Linked DNA regions of Homo sapiens. The protein of the gene in region 1 purifies or fractionates together with the protein of each later gene. This does not show direct contact. Each region holds a gene or a part of one and is shown on either strand. Other genes may lie near its edges.

What was found.
Region 2: the proteins of MAPK8IP1 (region 1) and KLC1 purify together in Homo sapiens (affinity purification with western blotting; one study listed by BioGRID). This does not show direct contact.
Region 3: the proteins of MAPK8IP1 (region 1) and MAP3K13 purify together in Homo sapiens (affinity purification with western blotting, with the first as the bait; one study listed by BioGRID). This does not show direct contact.
Region 4: the proteins of MAPK8IP1 (region 1) and RAB10 purify together in Homo sapiens (affinity purification with western blotting; one study listed by BioGRID). This does not show direct contact.
Region 5: the proteins of MAPK8IP1 (region 1) and PAX2 purify together in Homo sapiens (affinity purification with western blotting, with the first as the bait; one study listed by BioGRID). This does not show direct contact.
Region 6: the proteins of MAPK8IP1 (region 1) and SETX purify together in Homo sapiens (affinity purification with mass spectrometry; 2 studies listed by BioGRID and IntAct, with this or other methods). This does not show direct contact.

What each region holds. Positions count from the first base shown.
Region 1 is NC_000011.10:45,892,151-45,895,650, reverse strand, and holds part of MAPK8IP1 (C-Jun-amino-terminal kinase-interacting protein 1), read right to left. Parts: intron 1-3,500. UniProt on the Homo sapiens protein: The JNK-interacting protein (JIP) group of scaffold proteins selectively mediates JNK signaling by aggregating specific components of the MAPK cascade to form a functional JNK signaling module. Required for JNK activation in response to excitotoxic stress.
Region 2 is NC_000014.9:103,667,211-103,670,710, reverse strand, and holds part of KLC1 (kinesin light chain 1), read right to left. Parts: intron 1,201-3,500; coding exon 1,113-1,200; intron 530-1,112; coding exon 428-529; intron 1-427. UniProt on the Homo sapiens protein: Kinesin is a microtubule-associated force-producing protein that may play a role in organelle transport. The light chain may function in coupling of cargo to the heavy chain or in the modulation of its ATPase activity.
Region 3 is NC_000003.12:185,474,636-185,478,135, reverse strand, and holds part of MAP3K13 (mitogen-activated protein kinase kinase kinase 13), read right to left. Parts: exon of another isoform or gene 1,787-3,500; intron 1,653-1,786; exon of another isoform or gene 1,552-1,652; intron 1,094-1,551; exon of another isoform or gene 811-1,093; coding exon 740-810; exon of another isoform or gene 1-739. UniProt on the Homo sapiens protein: Activates the JUN N-terminal pathway through activation of the MAP kinase kinase MAP2K7. Acts synergistically with PRDX3 to regulate the activation of NF-kappa-B in the cytosol.
Region 4 is NC_000002.12:26,124,584-26,128,083, reverse strand, and holds part of RAB10 (ras-related protein Rab-10), read right to left. Parts: intron 941-3,500; coding exon 851-940; intron 235-850; coding exon 133-234; intron 1-132. UniProt on the Homo sapiens protein: The small GTPases Rab are key regulators of intracellular membrane trafficking, from the formation of transport vesicles to their fusion with membranes.
Region 5 is NC_000010.11:100,752,082-100,755,581, reverse strand, and holds part of PAX2 (paired box protein Pax-2), read right to left. Parts: intron 1-3,500. UniProt on the Homo sapiens protein: Transcription factor that may have a role in kidney cell differentiation. Has a critical role in the development of the urogenital tract, the eyes, and the CNS.
Region 6 is NC_000009.12:132,295,987-132,299,486, forward strand, and holds part of SETX (probable helicase senataxin), read right to left. Parts: intron 2,327-3,500; coding exon 2,094-2,326; intron 1,069-2,093; coding exon 901-1,068; intron 43-900; coding exon 1-42. UniProt on the Homo sapiens protein: Probable RNA/DNA helicase involved in diverse aspects of RNA metabolism and genomic integrity.

The DNA.
Region 1 (3,500 bases):
TATATATATATATATATTTTTTTTTTTTTTTGAGACGGCCTTTCGCTCTGTCACCCAGGCTGGAGAGCAATGACATGATCTTGGCTCACCGCAGCCTCTGCCACCTGGGTTCAAGTGATTCTCCTGCCTCAGCCTCTTGAGTAGCTGGGATTGCAGGTGTGCATCACCATACCTGGTTAATTTTTGTATTTTTAGTAGAGACAGGGTTTCACCATGTTGGCCAGGCTAGTCTTGAACTCCTGACCTCAGGTGATCTGCTCGCCTCGGCTTCTCAAAGTGCTGGGATTGCAGGCGTGAGCCATGGTGCCCAGCCCCCCTGCACACATCTGTGTCTCCTCACACATGGCTCCGCTTCCTCACTGCCAAGCCCTAGTCCAGCTCCTGCCTCTGCCCTCCCAGATGTCCCCACTGGCCTGTCTGTCTCAGTCTCCCTATGCCTGCACCATCCCACTCCACCTGCCACTATCAGGCAAAACTGCCAGAAATGCCATCATCCCTCCCGCCCCACTTGGAACCCTCAAGGCTCTCCACTAGCAGCAGGTTCCTGTGCCTGCAGGCAAGGCCTCCAGCTCCATGCGTAGTCTGCGTGGGCACTGTGTCTCCCCAGTGCCAAACCCAGTGCTCAGAGGGAGCACGTGGCAGACTCTCAAACCATGCTTGCTGGAAGAGTGCTCAGTTAAGCTCATTCTTCCAGGAAGCCCTCCCAGCCCTTGCATGTGGCTGATGTCACCATCTGCCTGGATGTACAGTAGTGTGTGCAGCAGACAGGGCCAGCCCTCCCTCAGAAACACCCACTTCCCACCCCCTGGCTGCTCCAAAGGTGGATGGGGCCTGTATCCAGCACCCTGATTGATGACCCTATACTGTACCCAGCAGGTGATCAAGACCCCTTCCTCCCCTTGCTCCTGGAGGGCAGAGCTGGCGAGTTCATCCTGCATACACTGAGTCCTCAGCATGAGCCTGCTAGATGTCTGTCACAGGACAGCCTCTGCCTCCACCTGCTCCTCTCGAACTGCAGGCTGGAGCAGGGCCTGCAGGGTCTGGCTTAGACCTGGGTTAGAGGCTTCTCAGTTCACTTCTACACCCTCAACATCACCTGATATTCCCACTTCCTTGGACAATAGGTCTGGGTGGGGCAAGGACAGCAGCATTCTTCCTGTACAGCTGAGGGCACTGGGCTTTAATTGGGCAATGCTAGAAAGAATACTGGGCTGGGGGTCAGAGAGCCTATGCCTGATCCCTGGCTCTACTGGGGTGGGTTAAGGGGGATGCTTTGTCTGACTTTTTAGGTGCCTCTCATAAGTAAGGCAGGATGGAAGAATGATCACCATATCAGGCTTGGAAGCAGGAGGCCTGAAATAAATCCTGACTCTTTCACGTTGAAGCTGCCCCATCTTGGCCCCAACATTTATGCCATGCATCTCTCTTAATCCTCATTGCAACAACCTTGGGAGAGGGTTTGTTCCATTTTTCCCATTTTACAGATGAGGAACACTAAGGCTTAGACATAAAGGTGCCTTATGCTTCAGCTTCCCAGATACAGGATGAAGCCACCAATCCCTGCCCACCCACCTCAGAGGGCTGGTGAGGGTTAGCAGAATGGAATTTGTGTGAGTAGGAGGTCACTACCAAGGATCAAGGGGGACTGATTGGTCAAAGAGTACCCTGTGCAAGTCACCCCCCATCCAAGACTCTGCCCTTTCCTCTTTTCCAGGCACCAGATGTTCTGGCCTCCCAGCTAAAACCCTGGGGGGTCCCTTTATGGAGAGAAGGCTAAACAGACACTTGGTCCCTGAAGGCTCATGGAAGGTCAATGTGGGGAAGGGAGGGAAAGGAGGAGGGAGGAAAAGATGGAGGGGAGAAGGGAGGGGAAGAAGGGGAAAAGAGGGCGGTTCCCTCCTGTCCCGCCTGATCCACCCTGCTCATGGCAGCCTTAGCACCAGGAGGCCTCCAAACTGAATCCTACGGCCCTCCGCAGGCCGGCCTCCCTCACCTCTGGGTCTGGAAGTTTCAGCAGTCTCCTGTAGAAGCAGCCCCTGCCCACCCATCAGACCTGCTTGTCTATCCTGGATGCTGTGATCCTTGAGACGTCATCCATATTAACGTTTGGTGGCTCTGAGCTGTGAGTTTGGTCTCTGGAGACCGCCCTGACCTTTCTACCTGAGGCCCTGTTCCTGCATTCACCTGATCCCTCCTACTCTGCTGCCCCAGTCCTTGCTTTTGCCCTGCCAGCTCCTCACTGTTCTCGCCATACCAGCTCCTGCTCCCACCCCACCCTGAGCTGCACTTTTCTAAATGGCCCTGAACAAACATGCCTTTTGTGTTCTGATGTTGATTTCAGGCCCTTTTCCCCTGCCTTGCTGGGTCACATTTCCACCAACCACAGTCCTGCCCTTTCTAACGGACTATTTCAGCTCCGTAGTAGGCTGAGTTAGAAGTGTATGTAAAGCAAAGGTTAAGTGGTAAAGTGCTGAGGCTTTAGCTGAGCAAGGCCAAATCTGAGCCAGGCATTGGCTGTTCAGATGTCATTCTTGGGCCTTTGTGTTCCTGGCTGTGCTGTGGTGAGGAGGTAAGGATGCCAGCTGATTGACCTTGGGTCCTGGCCACAATGCCCCACAAGCCTCTCTTGTGACAGAGGGCACGTGTGGTCCAGGGATCCAGCCTGCCTCTTTGCAGCCCTCTAAGTGCTGAGAACGAAGCTGGCTCCCAGTGAGTTCTCAGGACACCTGTTGACTGGCCGCTCAACCCTAAGTGGGTTCCCCATTTCCCTCTGGTTCCTCTACCAGCCACTCTCCACCAGGTAATGACAGCAAAGCTGACCTCTGAATTACAAATCTGGTCTGGTCACTCTTCCCAGCTCAAAGCCCTTTAATAGCTTCCCCTGGTCCTTAGGAGAAGGGGCCCAAATTCTCATCTGTGGCCTGAAGGCTCTGTAAAGCCTCCTTTCCCTCCAACCAGTATCATTTCCCTTCATTCCCCCCACCTCCCACCTTTATCTCCTCCTTCAATAGCGCAGCTCCCAAAGCAGTAGCATGGTCTCCTCTGCAAGCCTTCTCTGACCTCTGGGACCAAGCCAAACCGCCCTGCTATGGGCTCTCGGAGTCCCTCCTGGCTGTGGTTCCGTATCACTGTAATTTTACCTTTGGGTTATGCGGCCCGCGGTGGCCTCCCCTTGGAGTCAGTTAATCCATATGGGTGGGATCATATCTGTTTTGATCAACATGTGTGGTGCCTAATAGGTACTTGACAAATGCTGAATGAATTAACCACAGGTGTCCCAGGGCTCTCTGGATTTTTGCCTTGGAAATCTCTAAGTTAGTCCACTTTTCCAATCAACTTCCTGTGTCCCCACCTACACCAGAGTCTGGGCTAGGATGTCAGGTCCTCTGGGAAGACGGTGCTGGCTGAAACGGTGGGGTGGGGATGAGCCAGACCCAGCATCCCTCTCAGGCCCTCGCTCTACCCCCACCACCTGGCTCTGGGTGAACATGGGGTTGGGC
Region 2 (3,500 bases), on another chromosome or scaffold:
TAGTCAGTTAAAAACACATCACAGTGGTTATTTCTCAAAACCTAAAACCGAAAAATTTTTAAAAACACAAAAAACAGCGCCGGGCACAGTGGCTCAGCCTGTAATCCCAGCACTTTGGGAGGCCAAGGCGGGCGGATCAGGAGGTCAAGAGATTGAGAACATCCTGGCCAACATGGTGAAACCCCATCTCTACTACAAATACAAAAATTAGGTGGACGTGGTGGTGTGTCCCTGTAGTCCCAGCTACTTGGAAGGCCGAGGCAGAAGAATCACCTGAACCATGGAGGTGGGGGTTGCAGTGAGCCGAGATCACGCCACCGCACTCCAGCCCGGTGACAGAACGAGACTCCATCTCAAAAAAAAAAAAAAAACCACACACACACAAAACAAAAATCTCAAAGAAAACGACTGCCCCCTTCTTTTGTACCTTTTCTCGGATTTCCAGAGCTCTTTTACACAACGGCTCTGCTTCTTTGTACTTCCCTCTTTTACCATAAAGGACTGCAAGGTTATTCAAAGTCGCCGCCACCTGTCAACACAGAGAGAACCACTAAGAATGGTAAAAGATAACCAAATAAGAGTACATTTATACACCACATATTCATTTATATTCAATCTATACAGTAAAGCATTCTTAGTCGGATAGAACAATATGACTTCAGTTAAAATGAAAAGCGCAATTCACTAGAGTATAGATTATACAAAGTAACACTGCAGAATACTAAAATTAAACAAATCAACAACGTATTCCTGACTTTTTAAAAATTTCCCTGGAAGCCACAAAGCCAACCAAAACAGATTCATATGCAAATCTGACCAGATTTTAATGAAGACAATATAATTTTCAGAAAAAAATTTCTAGAAGGACATGCAATTTGATTTACAATCAAACAATACAGTTGGTGATCCATTTGAGGTGGGGTCATAAACAAATTAAGTGTGCTCTGGCCTGTCACTAGCACTGAGTAAGTGAAGACCTCCTACCTGCACCATCTAGGGAAAAGGCAGCACTTAAACTTTCCCTGTTGAGTTTAATGGTAAAATGAGTTGGATAAAAGAAATATATGGGGAAAATAAAATATTAAAAGAATGAAAGAACTGGATATACAAACCGCAGGATGATCTTTGCCCAAAGTTTTCTCACGAATAGCCAAGGCATCATTCAGTAGGTTAGCTGCATCTTTGTATTTATTCTGATCCCTAAATGGAAAAACACACATTAAGTGTTTCAGATGTAGATCACTACAGCTTTTCTTTTCTTTTCTTTTCTTTTTTTTTAGACAGAGTCTGACTCTGTTGCACAGGTTGGAGTGCAGTGGTGCCATCTTGGCTCACTGCAACCTCCGCCTCACGGGTTCAAGCAATTCTCTGCCTCAGCCTCCTGAGTAGCTGGGATTACAGGCATCTGTCACCACGCCCGGCTAATTTTTGTATTTTTAGTAGAGACGGGATTTCACCATGTTGGCCAGGGTGGTCTCAAACTCCTGACCTCATGATCCACCCGCCTAGGCCTCCCAAAGTGCTGGGGTTACAGGCATGAGCCATCGTGCCCGGCCTCACTACAGCTTTTTTAAATGTAATTTTCAACTACAGAAATAAAAGTTAAGCTTAAACTATTTAAGAAAAACCACAGGGCCGGGTGCAGTGGCTCATGCCTGTAATCTCAGCACTTTGGGAGGCTGAGGCGGGCAGATCACGAGGTCAGGAGATCGAGACCATCCTGGCTAACATGGTGAAACCCCATCGCTACTAAAAATACAAAAAAATTAGCCGGGTGTGGTAGCAGGCGGCTTTAGTCCCAGCTACTCGGGAGGCTGAGGCAGGAGAATGGCGTGAACCTGGGAGGTGGAGCTTGCAGTGAGCAGAGATCGTGCCACTGCACTCCAGCCTAGGCGACAGAGTGAGACTGTCTCAAAAAATAAATAAATAAAAAGATGGGTGTGGTGGCTCACGCCTGTAATCCCAACACTTTGGGAGGCTGAGGCGGGCGGATCACGAGGTCAGAAGATCGAGACCATCCTTGCTAACACAGTGAAACCCTGTCTCTACTAAAAATACAAAAAAAAATAGCCGGGCATGGCAGCATGCGCCTGTTGTCCCAGCTGCTGGGGACGCTAAGGCAGGAGAATGATGTGAACCCGGGAGGCGGAGCTTGCAGTGAGCATAGATCGCGCCACTGCACTAAAGCCTGGGTGACAGAGCAAGACTCCGTCTCAAAAGAAAAAAAAAAGAAAAAAGAAAAACCACAAGCTTATGGATGGGGAAAAAACACTGGAAGGAAATCCACCAATAAATGGACTGGCAAGGTGAACTCTGGAATCAGACCCAACTAGCTTCTGAACTTAACCTTCCCATCTAGGCCACTGGGAAGATAATGTCCCCACACTACAGTGTTGTCCTGCCTATGCCAGCTGGCCAGCACAGAATAAGTGCAACAGTCTAGAACAATGGACCAAGCTTGCATTTGGTTTCAGACAGAATTAATTCTAGTGTCTGAGCTTGGGCTCTACCAGTTAATGGCTACATGGCTTTGGGTGCATTACGTGACCTCACGCAGTCCCAGCCTTCCCATCTACAAAGCAAGTATATGATCTATTGCACAGTCTTGCTGTAAGAAGATGATATGCTACATGTATACTGAAAAAATATTTTAAAAAACAACAAACAAAAGTAAATATATTGTTGTGTCTGAACTTGGTACCCAGTCTCCCTCCATTTTGTTGAGTATGGAGGAACGAAGAATCTTTCTTGATTGGAGTAAAACAGAAACACCCCAGAACCAGAAACTCTCAGTTTAAGCGTGCTACTCACTACTGATGTGACTGAGAACAAGTACTTGCTTTTGAGACTTAGCACACATCTTTCTCAATTGAGTAGTAGTAACTGCCTGGCAAGGCTTTCCCCTGAAAAACGTGAGAAAGGTTAATAAGGCTTCTACAACCTCTGAAGCACACTAATTCTGGCCACGTATTAATATATTGTTGTTTCTTCTTTCATCCTATTACATCCTATTGTAAGCTGCCTCAAACTTTTTGTGAAAGTCAGCAAGTACAAAATAGAGTTCCAAAAAGTAGTGGCCAGGTGCGGTGGCTCACACCTGCAATCCTAGCACTTTGGGAGGCTGAGGCGGGCAGACTGCCTGAGCTCAGGAGTTCAAGACAAGCCTGGGCAACACAGTGAAACCCCATCTCTACTAAAATACAAAAAATTAGCCAGGCCTGGCGACATGCACCTGTAGTCCCAGCTACTCGGGAGGCTGAGGCAGGAGAATTGTAGCAAATGCAATTTAAAAATAAGCTACCAAGGCTGGGCACGGTGGCTCACGCCTGTAATCCCAGCACTCTGGGAGGCTGAGGCGGGTAGATCACCCGAGGTCAGGAGTTCAAGATCAACCAACATAGCAAGACCCTGTCTCTACTAAAAATACAAAAATTAGCTGGGTGTGGTGGCAGGCACCTGTAATCCCAGCTACTCGGGAGCCTGAGGCAGAAGAATCGCTT
Region 3 (3,500 bases), on another chromosome or scaffold:
TTATCTAATCATATTTAACTTGAGATATAAAATCTAAGGCATGGGGAATGCTATGGACTGAATTGCCTTCCTCCCAAATCCATCGGTTGAAGCTCTAAACTCCAATATAATTGTATCTAGATAGACCCTCTAGATAGGGTCTTTAGGAGGTAATTAATATTAAATGAGTTCATAAGAGTGGACCCCTAATCCAATAAGACTGTGACCTTTTAAAAGAAGGAAGAGCTCTCTCTGCCATGTGAGGAAACAGCAAGAAGGTGGCTGTCTGCAAGCCAGTAGGAGAGCCCTCATCAGGAACTGAGTCAGCTAGAACCTTGATCTTGAACTTCCCCAGCTCCAGAATTGTGAGAAATCAATTTCTGTTGTTTAAGCATCCAGTTTGTTACAGAAGCCTGAGCAGACCAACACAGGGAGGCACACTAGAAACCAACACAATTACCCATAAAACAGCATGGCCATCTGTCACAAACTGCCCACTGTATTCTCAGTTGTAACCTTGAATCTGTATTCATGCTCCTCATCATGAAGTTGCTGTAAAATGAATGCTAATGAACTAGGATCTGCTGTGCACGAACAACTGCCAAAATGTAGCAACAGGAAAACATGAACACAGTGAGTTCAAAGTTCCCTATAAGGTGGCTGCCAGGGAATCACCTGTGGTTGAAGAGCAGGTGTGGCAAACTTAGGATTTTTTTTCCCCATTCCACTAAAAGCAATCGTGTGCATTTGTTGGTTTTACCTCTGTCTTCGTGGAAATTCAACTTCACTATCTACTTCCCCTTCTTCCTCTTCTGAGGAGTCATCTCCACTCTGAGGAGAACAAGGATTAAGAGTTTTATTTATTTTAGTGTCACTCTGTCTCTCTCACCCCATCCCCACTAACTGTAAAAAATGTAATTATCATCAAAAGTCATTCATTTAGTAGTAGCTTGCTGAATGTCATCTTTAAACATACATGTCCTCATTATTCATTTAGTAACTTTTCCAGGGTACCTATGATGGCGGGCCTGCATGAGATGCTGGAAGACGTGTAGAACTGAGTGAAATTTTCTTTGTCCTCAGAGAGGTGATGGCTCTATTAAAGTGTCCAGAGGTGAGTGATGGAGAGGGAAGTTGGAGAGGAGGTCTTGGATTTGGGGTCAGTCTCTTGTAATCATTGTCACTAGTGGTTCCAGGCTCTGTTATAGAATTGATCTTTGAAATCCTCAAAGCCGAACAATTACTTTTTCCCTTTTTATATACCAATCCCTTTTTCACTAATATTATGTAGTTAGATAGACATTTTTGAGGGTCAGACTATATCCTGTTTGTACTGTATGCCTCACTCCATTAATACAATACTGCATACAAAATTGGTGTTATCCCTATAAATATATATAATTATTGTTTGTCAATTAAAAGAAAGTGCTTAATGCATTTTTATTGAGTCAGCATGTTGGCAGCAATAAGGGAGCTCTGGCTGGGACACCTGAGTCCCCGTGATTGCTGGGGCTCCATGGTTGATCTGGAAGGCGGGGTAAGTGTCCTGACTGAGGTGATCTTCCTTTACAGAGAACTCATCTCACACCAAGGGCATAGGAGCAGCCACACTTAAGATCAACTGTCCTTAACCACAGCATCATGATACGCTGGATTACCCAATCGCTTGTAAGGTGGGTAATTGGGTCCAAGGAACTGTACCAAATATTGAGAATAATTTACCTTTTAAAAAGTCAGTTCTAAAATATCATGAATCTTACTCATTTGTATTCTGATATGCTTTTTTTTTTTTTTTTTTTTAAAATAGGAAAGACAGAGATGAAGTTATCCTGACTGCTGAGATGAGCAGTTTACCCTAGGAGGACCTGTGGGACTATGTTTTGGTAAAGAAAAGTTGAGCTGCTCTGTGGGAGTGAGGTTCCAATGAAGCCAAATGTACAAGGTGTGTGTTCTATGGCCTAAAGACCCGTAGATGGTATCACAATGGCATGAGAAAGGTTCAAAGATACATGTTATTTGGGGGAGCCTGGGGAATGTGGTGACTGCTAAAGGGTGTGGGGTTTCTTTCTGGGGTGATAAAAGTGTTGTAAAATTGGTCGTGGTGATAGTTACACAGCTCTGTGGATAAAAAGCATTGAACTATACACTTTAAATGGGAGGACTGTATGGTATGCAAATTATATCTTAATAAAGAAGTTATCAAAAAATACAAGTTACTGGCCATCGGAGTTGGAAGAGGAGAGAATGGATCGGCCCAAATCAACTGCACCAGCTGAAACACAATTTTATGTATTTATTTATTTATTGAGACAGAGTCTTGCTCTGTTGCCCAGGCTGGAGTGCAGTGGTGCAATCTTGGCTCACTGCAACCTCTGCCTCCTGGGTTCAACTGATTCTCCTGCCTCAGCCTCCCGAGTACCTGGGATTACAGGAGTGCACCACCATGCCCGGCTAATTTTTGTATTTTTAGTAGAGACAGGGTTTCCCATATTGGCCAGGCTGGTCTCGAACTCCTGACCTCAGGTGTTCCACCCGCCTTGGCCTCCCAAAGTGCTGGGATTACAGGTGTGAGCCACCGCGGCCACCCCCTGAAACACAATTTAATCTCTGGGACTGCTTAGTCAGTATAGGAGCAGCAATGTAGGTGGAGGGGGAAATGCAGTTCCCAGATGACAGCCCTCAGCTTCAGCTTCTTTTCTACTCAATGCCTAGTTGACCAAACATACTCATTACATTTTATACCCTTTCATTCCTTCAGCTAAATTCCTGGTGAACAATGATGATGAGATGAAACCATACTTAGAATTGGGTGGGTGTCTACCATGTTGTAAACATTTTTCATACATAATCTTATTTTTTGACTCATAGCAAGAAGAGCTAATACTTTTGGAAAAGTGCTACGTTCCAGGCCCTGTTCTAAATGCTTTATATGTATTTATGCATGTAGTCTTTATAGCAACTGATGAGGCAGAGTCCAATATTAGGCCCATTTTATAGACAAGGAAACTGAGGTCCATAGAGGTACTAAATGGAAGAGCGTGGCTTTTTTTTTTTTTTTTTTTTGAGATGGGGTCTCACACTGTCGCCCAGTCTGGAGTGCAGTGGCGGGATCTCGGCTCACTGCAGCCTCCACCTCCCAGGTTCAAGCTATTCTCTGCCTCAGCCTCCTGAGTAGCTGGGATTACAGGTGCCTGCCACCACGCCTGGCTAATTTTTGTATTTTTGGTAGAGATAGGATTTCACCATGCTGGCCAGGCTGGTCTTGAACTCCTGACCTCATGATCCACCTGCCTCGGCCTTCCAAAGTGCTGGCATTACAAGCATGAGCCACCGTGCCTGGCCAAGAGCCTGGCTTTAAAGTAAGGTCTGTCTGACTCCTAGGCTCATGCTCTTAACTGCTATGGTAGTCTGCTTCCCAGGTAACAAATCCCAGGCAGCCAGTGGATAAGGAGGAGAGAAACAGGTTTCAATGATTAAGAACTATCTGGGTCACGATGCCTGTCAATTAAGGCAATGTTTTC
Region 4 (3,500 bases), on another chromosome or scaffold:
TGGGGACTGCTGCCCTACAGAAACAATACCACCCAAACTCAAATTCTGTATGTAAATCCAGTACTTCAGAATAGACAAAATATTCAACAGAGATACTCAGGTACCTGGCAGGATATAAAAACAGGAACTTACCTTTCGAAGGATATCTTCAGCTAACGTGAGGAACGCCTTTTCGATGTTTATATTTGCTTTTGCACTAGTCTCAAAAAACCTAATACCATGCTCCCTTGCAATCTAAAACAGAAACAAAATATCATCATAAAATTATCAAGCATGGGTTGCCAACTGCTGACTTTAACAGCTTAAATATTAATCTTATTCTGAAGGCAGTGGTCCCAACTAGAATATATAACACAGAATATTTCAGCAAGTCAAGCTCTTTCATAAAACAAACAAAAGAAAAGTAATCTCCTTACCCCAAAAGTTTATTTCAGATATTCTAAGTCAGATACTTCACACTGGGGGCAAACTTATGAGAAGCTCAACCTGACTCCTCAGGGTCTAATTTCTGCTCACCATAGGCTCCTGATTGTCACATTTTAGAACCATACTAATTGATACATTTCCTTAAAGTCCTAAGTTTAAAAACCGAGGATTAATGACTTATATTTTTCTCTCTTTGTAGTTTAAATAAGGCTAAAAATACTATGGGCACATTTGATTCTCCCATACATGTTAAATATGCACTGAAAAAAAATTCACTCAAATGATAAAATATTATTTCCAACAAGCATTTTAAAAACTATGTAATTAGCTTAGTGTGTTCGATCACTATTACTATAAAAATAATCAAAAGTAGCATTACCTTTACAAAGACAGAGCAGAGTATCAGTTTAATTCAGATTTTTACCTGTTCTCCTTTTCCTTTAGGTACAACTCTTTTGTCGTCCATATCACACTTGTTTCCTAGTAACATTCTTTCCACATCTTCATTGGCATGCTAAAATGAAATAAAATTTTACTTTTACATACTACCATGAATTACGGCTTAACAGTCTTTAAAAGTGACTTTATTCTCTCAATTTAGAGGGTCATTTCTATAGCTTTGAAGTTTTAAAGCAGTCACCCTAAAACTACTCCATACTAAAAGCCTACACAAATTCTTAGATTACCTAGCAAAAGAAACGCAATTCCCAAGACATATCCATGTCAAATACTATTTCCTCCCTAAAGGAGGCTGTCTACTTTCTAGGTATGTTCTTTCTTACCAAAAGAGAAGATACAAGCAAAGAAACTTGCATAATCTAAATCCAGGCTGGATCATTTCAGATTTTATAATGCATACTACCCTATAGAAGCCTTAATTAAACATTTTATAGAGCCTTAAACTCTCAAATAGCTGTGCTGCTATGGCACAAGGAGGTCCATGCAGAAAAATCAGTTAAAAACAAGTGGTTGTCCCCTTAAGATCCCAATGACAATTTTTGCAGAAATAGAAAGATCTATCCAAAAATTCATATGGAATCTAACATCAAAAGAATCTCTCTTTTTGAGACAGAGCCTTGCTCTGTTGCCCAGGCTGGAGTGCAGTGGTGTGATCTGGGCTTCCTGCAACTTTCGCCTCCCGAGTTCAAGCGATTCTCCTGCCTTAGCCTCTTGAGTAGCTGTGAGTAGCTGGGACTACAGGTGTGTGTACTACCATGCCAGCTAATTTTTGTAGTTTTCTGGTAGAGATGGGGGGTTTTGCCATGTTGGCCAGGCTGATCGCGAACTCCTGGCCTCAAGTGATCCACCCCCATCGGCCTCCCAAAGAGCTAGGATTACAGGCATGAGCCACTGAGCCCAGCCAAAATAATATTAGCTGGGGGAGTCAAATTTCAGAACTTACTGCAAATCAAAAAGTGTGGAACTGGCATAAAGACAGATACACAGACTAATGGAATGGAATAGAGAGCCCAGAAATAAATCCTCACATACTTAGTCAAATGACCCTCGACAAGGATGCCAAAATCAGTCAATAGGGAAAGGACAGTCTTTTCAATAAATAGCACTAGGAAAACCAGATATCCACATGCAAAACAATGAAGCTGGATCCTTATTTTAAACCATATAAAAAAATTAACTTGAACTAGATCAAAGACCTCAAACTATAAAACTCTTAGAAGAAAACATAGGGAAAAGCTTCAGGACACTGGATTTGGCAATGGTTTCTTTGACATGATACCAAAAGCACAGGCAATAAAAGAAAAAGTAGTTAAACTGTACTTCATCAAAGTTAAAAACTACTGTGCAACAAAGGACGCTATCAAGAGAATGAAAAGACTACCCACAAAAAGGAGGAAATATTTGTAAATCATGTATTTGAAAGGGAATAATACCTAGAATATATAAAAAACACCTAAAACTCCTAACAACAACAAAAAATGACAGCACTTTGGGAGGCTGTCAGGAAAATTGCCTGAGCCCAGGAGTTCGAGACTAGCCTGAGTAACACTGTGAGACCTCATCTCTACAAAAAATTTAAAAATTAGCCAGGCACGGTGGTGTGTGCCTGTAGTCCCAGCTACTTAGGAGGCTGTGGTAGGAGAATCACTTGAGCCTGGGAAGTTGAGGCTGCAGTGAGCCATGATCATCATGCCTCTGTACTCCAGCCTGGGGAACAGAGCAAGAACCTGTCTGGAAAAAATTTAAAAAAAAAAAAAAAAAAAAGCAAGCAAAGGATTTGAATAGACATTTCTTCAAAGAAGATATACAAACAAACAATATGCACATGAATAGATGCTCAATATCACTAAGATTAGGAAATGCAAATCAAAAACCACAATGAGAGATACCACTACATACCCATTAGTATGGCTACTATTAAAAAAACAGAAAACACATATTGGCGAGGATGTGGAGAAACCGACACCTTTGTGTACTGTTGGTAGGAATGTAAAATGGTGCAATCACTGTGGAAAAGTCTGGTGATTCCTCAAAAGGTTACACACAGAATTATCATATGATCCAGCAATTCCACTCATGGGTATACACGCAGAAGAATTTAAAGCAGGGACTCAGATATTTGTACACCAGTGTTCACAGCAACATTATTCACAATAGTAAAAGGGTGAAAACAACCCACATATCCAACAATGGGTGAATGAATAAACAGAACATGGCATATAAAAACAATGGAATATTATTCAGCCTCAAAAAATAAACAAGTTCTGACACATGCTACAATGTAGATGAACCTTGAAAACTTTATGTTAAATGAAGTAAATTACTTACAAATTGAACAAATACTATATGATTCCACTTATATGAGGTACCTATAACAGTCAAATTCATAGAAAATAGAATGGTGACAGTTGCCAGGAGATGGGGAAAGGGGGAGACAGAAATCATTGTTTAATGGATGCAAAGCTTGAGTTCAGAAAGATGAAAAAGTTCTGGAAATGGATGGTGGTGACGGTTGCACAACAGTAGAATGTACTTAACACCACTGAACTATACACCAAAATAATAGTTAAAATGAAAATTTCATGTTGTATGTATTTCACCACAATTTTAAAAAG
Region 5 (3,500 bases), on another chromosome or scaffold:
CAGCCTGAGCGATAATAAAAGCAATTGAGTAGGTTACCTGTGCAGACACAAGATTTATGCCTCTTCATATTTGATGTGATTGTTTTATTGAGTTCTCAGAACAGTTGGGACACTATTTATTTATTCATTTTGGGTTTTCCCTCTCTTTTCTTCTTTGCGTCACCTTCTGAAATGCACCTGGAGCTGTTGTCAGGCCCAGTGCCTCCTGTCTGCCTCTTCTCGAGAGTTGCCAGCTGAGGTAGGAAGGCAGGGCAAGCAGCAATTGCTCTCACCAGAAACCCCTTTTGTAGCCTGAACACCCACAGAACCAGCCAACAGGGAGACAGTCAGACCAACAGGACTGTGGGCCAGGAAGCCCAGGCTAAAACAACTACAAAAACAAAAAGAGGCTTTTCAGGAGGACAACTCCAGCTCATTTTAAGGAATGAGAATTTCAACCATCATGCCTGTTTCAAATGTTATTCCAATGATGGGTAACCTCACAGTAGGGGACTGTCTCTGGGAAAGGACAGGTGAGCGAGGCTTCTCTGACAGAAATTGGCATGTTGGTCTGCTATTTGTGGGCCCAATCTGCTAGGCTCAGGCCACAGAAGGTGAGTTCCCTGTCCTTGTTTCTGCCATTCCTCTGTGGATAGAAGTCTTTTTCTGAACTCTCCAACTTGCCCTGTCTCTTTGCCATGAGACCAACAGCCCTGACCACCAAACAGCTACAAAGATATGGAGATGTGGTAGGCAGTACCACCCCTCTGGCCAAGCTTCATGCCAAGCCAGGTCCAAGAGTAGAATAGGCAATGTTCTGGAACCTGAGTTTCAGAGAGGGAGAAACAGACCCTAGCCCGGAACATATCTTCAACATTCACGGGGCTAGGATTAATAGCTCCCAGCTTATTTGGAAAGGTCTTTGAACGAACAACTAGTAGACCATTGTCACCCCACTGCCTGACCCAAGGGGAACAATGACCTGAGAATGACTCAAAGACCTGAGAATGACAGAAGAGGGACACCCAAATGATACAGGATGGAATTCCTTAACACAGCCCTGGGTTGCCACTGCTAGGAGAATGAATGTACTCACCTAGAGCCTAACAGGCTAAGAGAGAGTGTGGATAGTGGGAGATCCGTGAGAAGTTGATTCTGCCAGGGTCCACTCCAAAGATCTAGGGGCAGAGAGTGCCCTGACTCCAAAGAGTGTTAGGCAAGCTAAAAAAGTTAGAAGGTGACACCCTTATTGTCAGCTCTTCCCAAAAGAGCACCCTCGGGGGATTGTCAGTAACCCCAGACTCTATTTGGGGTCTGTGCCTGTTCTTTCAAAGGAGGTGTATTCTCTGCCCAGAGTAACAGCCAAACCAGAAGATTTTGGCATATAATCAGGAAAATCCCTCCTGCTTAGACAATTGCTCAGCTATGTAACTAGACGACTTTTTCCTTTTTCAGTAGCATGGATCTCCCTCCACCTCTCCCCTCTCCAGGCCATGTCCCACACCAGGTTTCAATCTAAAGTCCCCTGTTTATAAACACCTGCCCTTTACAGCAGCGGTGTACAAACCAAAAAGCTGGCAACTCCATGCTCAGCCATTGGTAACCCAATGTTTAGAAAGATTCAGATAAATTCCACATGCTAAGGAGCCCAGTCAAGCCTTGGGATTTTTGAACGTGGTTTGTGGCAGTGGGGAGGCCTTCCTGACCCAGTCCTCTGGTTCAGAGAGGCATTTCTGAGGATTTGCTAGTGGAGAATACAGGCTGGATGGCCAGGCCTTTATCACAACAGAATCAGAGAATGCCAAAACCATTTTTAAAGAGTGAAAAAAGCAATTTAGTTTATAACCATAACAGCATATTTCAAGTGTGGCGACAGCATCTGTTTTGGGAAGGAGAAGATGAAAAACCACTAGCTCAGGTGGGTGAGCATGTGTGGACTTCTTTTCTTGCCAACCACCAGCTCATGCACAACCTTACTCATAACTGTTATAAAGTACCCAACACAAGTGGGCAGGTCACTACCAACAAAGCTCTAAACTCAAGAACCACCCGTTCCCCGGTGCACCACACTTTGTGCACACAGGAAAATCTCCGGGCTCTTCCTACAGTGAGTGAGAATTCCCAGAACTGATAAAAGGCAAAGTTTCTGATATAACCAGCACTAGCAGAAACATCCTGTTTTTATCAGGCTTTTGGGTGAAACAATACATCTCAGATAAACCTTCCCTCTTCAGAGCAAAAAGCACCTACAGGGATGAAGATGAGAGCGTGGTTCCCCAGGTGGATTTCTCCAGCCCCAACTCAGCAGCACACAGGGAAGCCCCCAGAATTCTTTCCAAAATATGAACCATGAGAGGATTCTGGACAAAAGCAAAATTGGGAATAGTTTTCCTGCTCCTTGTAGACAAAGCCAGCCATGAAGCCTAACTACGGACCCAGGGTAGGCTGCCCGTGTTGTTGGTGGCTTACCTGTTCCTCTCCTCCTACTCCCTCTCCATCTCCAGCAACATCTGCCCACAGATGGCTATTTCTCCACACCCAAAGGAAGCCTGTGTGCCCCTCAGGTGATAGGGCTCTGTGCTGGGCAGGTTCTGCAGCTGTCACAGCTGTCAAGCTGAGGCTACTCTTTCCCCACCCTCATCTCACTTGTGGCTCACTTGTCTACTTTGTCCTAATTCTGGTGGGTGCACCTCAAGACCTCTGGAGCTTGATCCTAGGGTCACCTGGCCCTTGTTCTCCATGGCTTTTCAGGATAGAAGTATTTCCAAACTTATGCCTAAGCCAGCTTCCAAAATCATCTCAGCCAATGAGGAGTGCATGTTGTTGAGGGGAGGGGCAGGGGGTGTTGGACGGGGCCACCACACCTGACTTGTTGCGCCACTCCTCTACCCCATTCAAGAGAAACAAATTACCTAAATCCTACATGACTTGGGTTTCTCCAAAGGCTTGAAAATTCTGTTACTGACAACAAGCATTTCTCTTAAATGTTCTGCAGAAGACCACTACCCAGTCCCAGCAACACTGCACACAGCAGGGCCACTCTTGGCCCTTGGCTGTTCTTCTCTTGAGATCTCAGTTCCAACTCATGCCCAGGACCAGCAATCAGCCAAGAGACTGAGTCTCTACATGGCTCATAAAACAATGCTTTGTCCCCTTCCCCTCCCGAAGTGCCACTCTTGCCTCAGCCCAAAGCTGCCCCAGCCTCCTCTCCTGGCTTTTAAAGCAAAGGGCTTATTCCTCTCCCAAACCACCCAGCGTCTTTCTCCAGCTCCTTTGGAAGGTATCTGAATGTCAAATCGCTATGCTTTCAATACCTGGCTGAGCCAGGCCGAGGGAGCTGGAGGGTTTTCGGAGGGTGTATAATTAGCTGATCAGTATTATGTTACCCTGTTCATAACTGAATAACCATTTTAATACAGATGGCACACACTGGGATAATTTCTGGGGTCGCCTCGCAGTACATTACAGCACGAGTGTGGCAGAGGGAATCTTCTTTAGCCAAGGTACATTCTACCAGCTAA
Region 6 (3,500 bases), on another chromosome or scaffold:
TTTGGCATTGGAGTTTTCGTCTGAATGCCCCTTCCTCTGGTTCTACAATTTGCCACATATACATACCAAACAAACACACAAAAAATATGGGTGAGCTCTATTACATAGCTTTAAAGTTTGTCTTTACTTCCATGTATTTTTGAAAGTTCTCGTAATAAAGTTAAAAATAAATAAAAGCATCTACATCTAACACTGATATTTAAAATTACTCCAGCAAAAAAATTTGTCATAACTGCTCTGAGCCTTACTTTATCATCCACTTACTTTAATGAATACTCAATCCAAGCCAGGCACAGTGGCTCACGCCTGTAATCCCAGCACTTCGGGAGGCCGAGGCGGGCGGATCACTTGAGGTCAGGAGCTCGAGACCAGCCTGGCCAACATGGCGAAACCCCATCTCTACTAAAAATACAAAAATTAGCTGTGGGTGGTGGTGTACGCCTGTAATCCCAGCCACTAGGGAGGTACTCGGGAGGCTGAGGCAGGAGAATCACTTGACCTGGGAGGCAGAGGTTGCTGTGAGTCAAGATCGTGCCACTGTACCCTAACCTGGATGACAGCGAGACACTGTCTCAAAAAAAAAAAACAAAAAACCACAATCCAACCAAAATGCAGCCCAGCATTCACAGCATTCTACGTGACCTACCGTGAAGCCTGAAGACCATCATTCTAGTCCTTACGATTTGTTTCACATAAGATAGTGGTTTTTTCCTCTTTTTATTTCCCATAACCTTCCCTCCCTCTGCCACCCTTTTCTCTGACACAGTTACACACAATATAAAAAATATATACAAATCAAAGAGGAAATGGCATGTTAATACTTATTTACATGTCAGTTAACTCAAGTAAAGTAAAATGATACAGCTAGTTAACAGCATCAGTGCCCTCACCCATACCTACCTCTGTCAGTAGACGATAGAGGAGGCCAACAATAGTTTTTGATTTTCCTGTTCCAGGTGGTCCATGAATCAAGCAGATTTTGGCAACTGATGGTGAGTGTTTCACCATAGCATATGCAGTTTCTATTGCTTTCTTTTGATCTTCATTGAAATCTCTTAAGTACGCAATCTATATAAAAAACACATTTTTGAGAATGAGTTGCTGTTTCTGTAGTGGAATTTGAAAGGAAGAACATGAAAAAGACCTGTCCAAATTTCTTTCAATGCATGAGACAAAAGCTTTGGTTATGGTCAGACAAGACAAGGACACCAAAGTGACCTTTAATCTAAAAAGCACGTTCACTACTGGAAAGAAAGCTAATTACTTACTAATTACTAATTAGTGTCTGTAACGCTTCAAGTACTTACAAATACAACTGTACTTTTATTTTTTATTCTTACAAAGATAATCACAATAAATTGCATTTACTAATCCACAACTTTTCTTCTATTTACTACTCTGTTTTTTTCCTTCTTTAGTCAATTTTCTCCTTAGTGAAAACATCCCAAGACTATTTATTTCCTAGCACATGTGATACAGTGGAAAAAGCATGTATGCCAGGGGAAGATCTGGGTGTAAGCTTCACTTGCACTTACAAGCTAGGCCACTACGCTCCTAACCCAAGCCTTGGCCTCTGTTACTCATTAAATCTAGGATTCCTTAAGAGGTGAGAACAGACTGAGATAATGCACATGAAAGCCATAGCATACAGCTCTAGAGTTTCTAAATAGTTAGTTTCCTTTTGCATTTCTCTGTTAACTTCCTAGAGTTTATACACAGCTTCACATGTTCAGTTGACAACTTCATCTTTGCATTTCCAACAATACCGGCCAATTCTCCATCAATCATTCAAATGTAAATTTAACACCACTAAACCTGAGACTTCTCACCTAATGCACATTAAGTAGGCTGCTGACCTAACATTTTAATGTTGCTCTTCCAGCAACCTTCGACGCTTATTGTACTGTACCTTTTCCTGAAGTGAGCTGACTTAACCTAAATTACATACTTTGCAATACTAAAGAAAACTAACACTAAACTGTTCACCGTGAACACATTTTTGTTGTAAACATATAGGAATACATAGCAGCTAAAAAATATGATGCTTTAACATCTTAACATGAAATTATCTAGTATCATACATCATCACTCACAATTCTCTCAGATGTTGTAGTCAGTAAATCTTTTGTACAGAAGTCCATAGGGTTTGGATTCAGAACAGCTCTAGCCAGTTGGTTCCGACTACCCAACAGAGACATGGCTTTCAACTTCCTTTGTGTAGTTACCAGAGAACTGATTACAATACAATTCACAAGTTCGTTTAAATTGGCCGGAAAGTTCTCTTGAGTCTGGATGGAAAGGTAACACTCAGTTTTCCCATTACGCACTATCATCAAGAAAGAGAAAAAGCAACTTCAGTTATCACTGAATAATGCTGCCTAGTTGTAAAGGTCATGCAGAATTAGGTATTTTTAACATATTTTTGGATATTATTTACATAATTTACCCAGTAAATATTTATGGACTGCTTCCTGAACCCAGTAATGTTCTGTCCTCCGGAGGCTTATTTTCTAGAAGATGGAGGCAGATAACCAAATAAATATGTCAGGTGGTAGTAAGTGCTCTGAAGAAAGCACACAAAGGGAGGAAGTGATGGGGATGGAGGCAGATAAGCTGGTCCGAGAAGGTCTTCCTGATGAAATATTTGAGCAGAGACTTGAAGTAAGGGAGTAAACAGTACTCAGCAGAGGGTAAATAGTACTACATGCAGAAAATAAGCAACTGCAAAGATCGTAAGACAGAGATGTGCCAGGAATATTTTAGAAATAGGGAGAAGGCTAACATGGATAGAAGGAAAAATAGGGAGAAGAACGCTTAGCGACTCAGAGTAAAACGGGGCTACATTTTATAGGGCTGTGCAGATCACAGTAATGACTCTGAACGCTATTCAGGATCAGGGTAGAAAACCATTGGGCACTCTGTGTAGGGAAATAACATGCTCTATCTCACAAACTAAAAGAACCACTCTTACCTCAGAACAAAGAATAACTACAATGAGAAAAGTACAGAAACAAAAAGACCACTTACAAGGTTACCATAGTAATTTAGGTAAAAGTTAATGACAGCTTGGACCAGGAGGCACTAGTAGACGTGGGAACTGGATTTGGGATATATTGCAAAGGAAAAATCAATCATATCTGCTGACAAATTAGAAGTGAGGTGTGAGAGAAAGTAAGGATCATGGATAACTCCAAGGTTTTTGGCCTGAGTAACTGAAAGAAGTGAGGCCCCAATTAACAAGATGGGAAAGAATGAAGGAAGTGCAGATGTCAGGCAGAAAATCAAGTGTTAACTTTTGGACTAGTGGATTTGAAATGTCTAACACATTTCCAAATGGAGGTATCCAAGACATGATTTTGATCTATGAGGAGTTCAGGGAATGAGACTGCCTTAGAACTATAAATTTGGCAAAGGTAATCATTTTCAAGAGCCAAAAGCACAGAGTAAGCCATCAATCCTCACTGCAACTCTTCTAAATGTATCCTATATTCTACAGAATT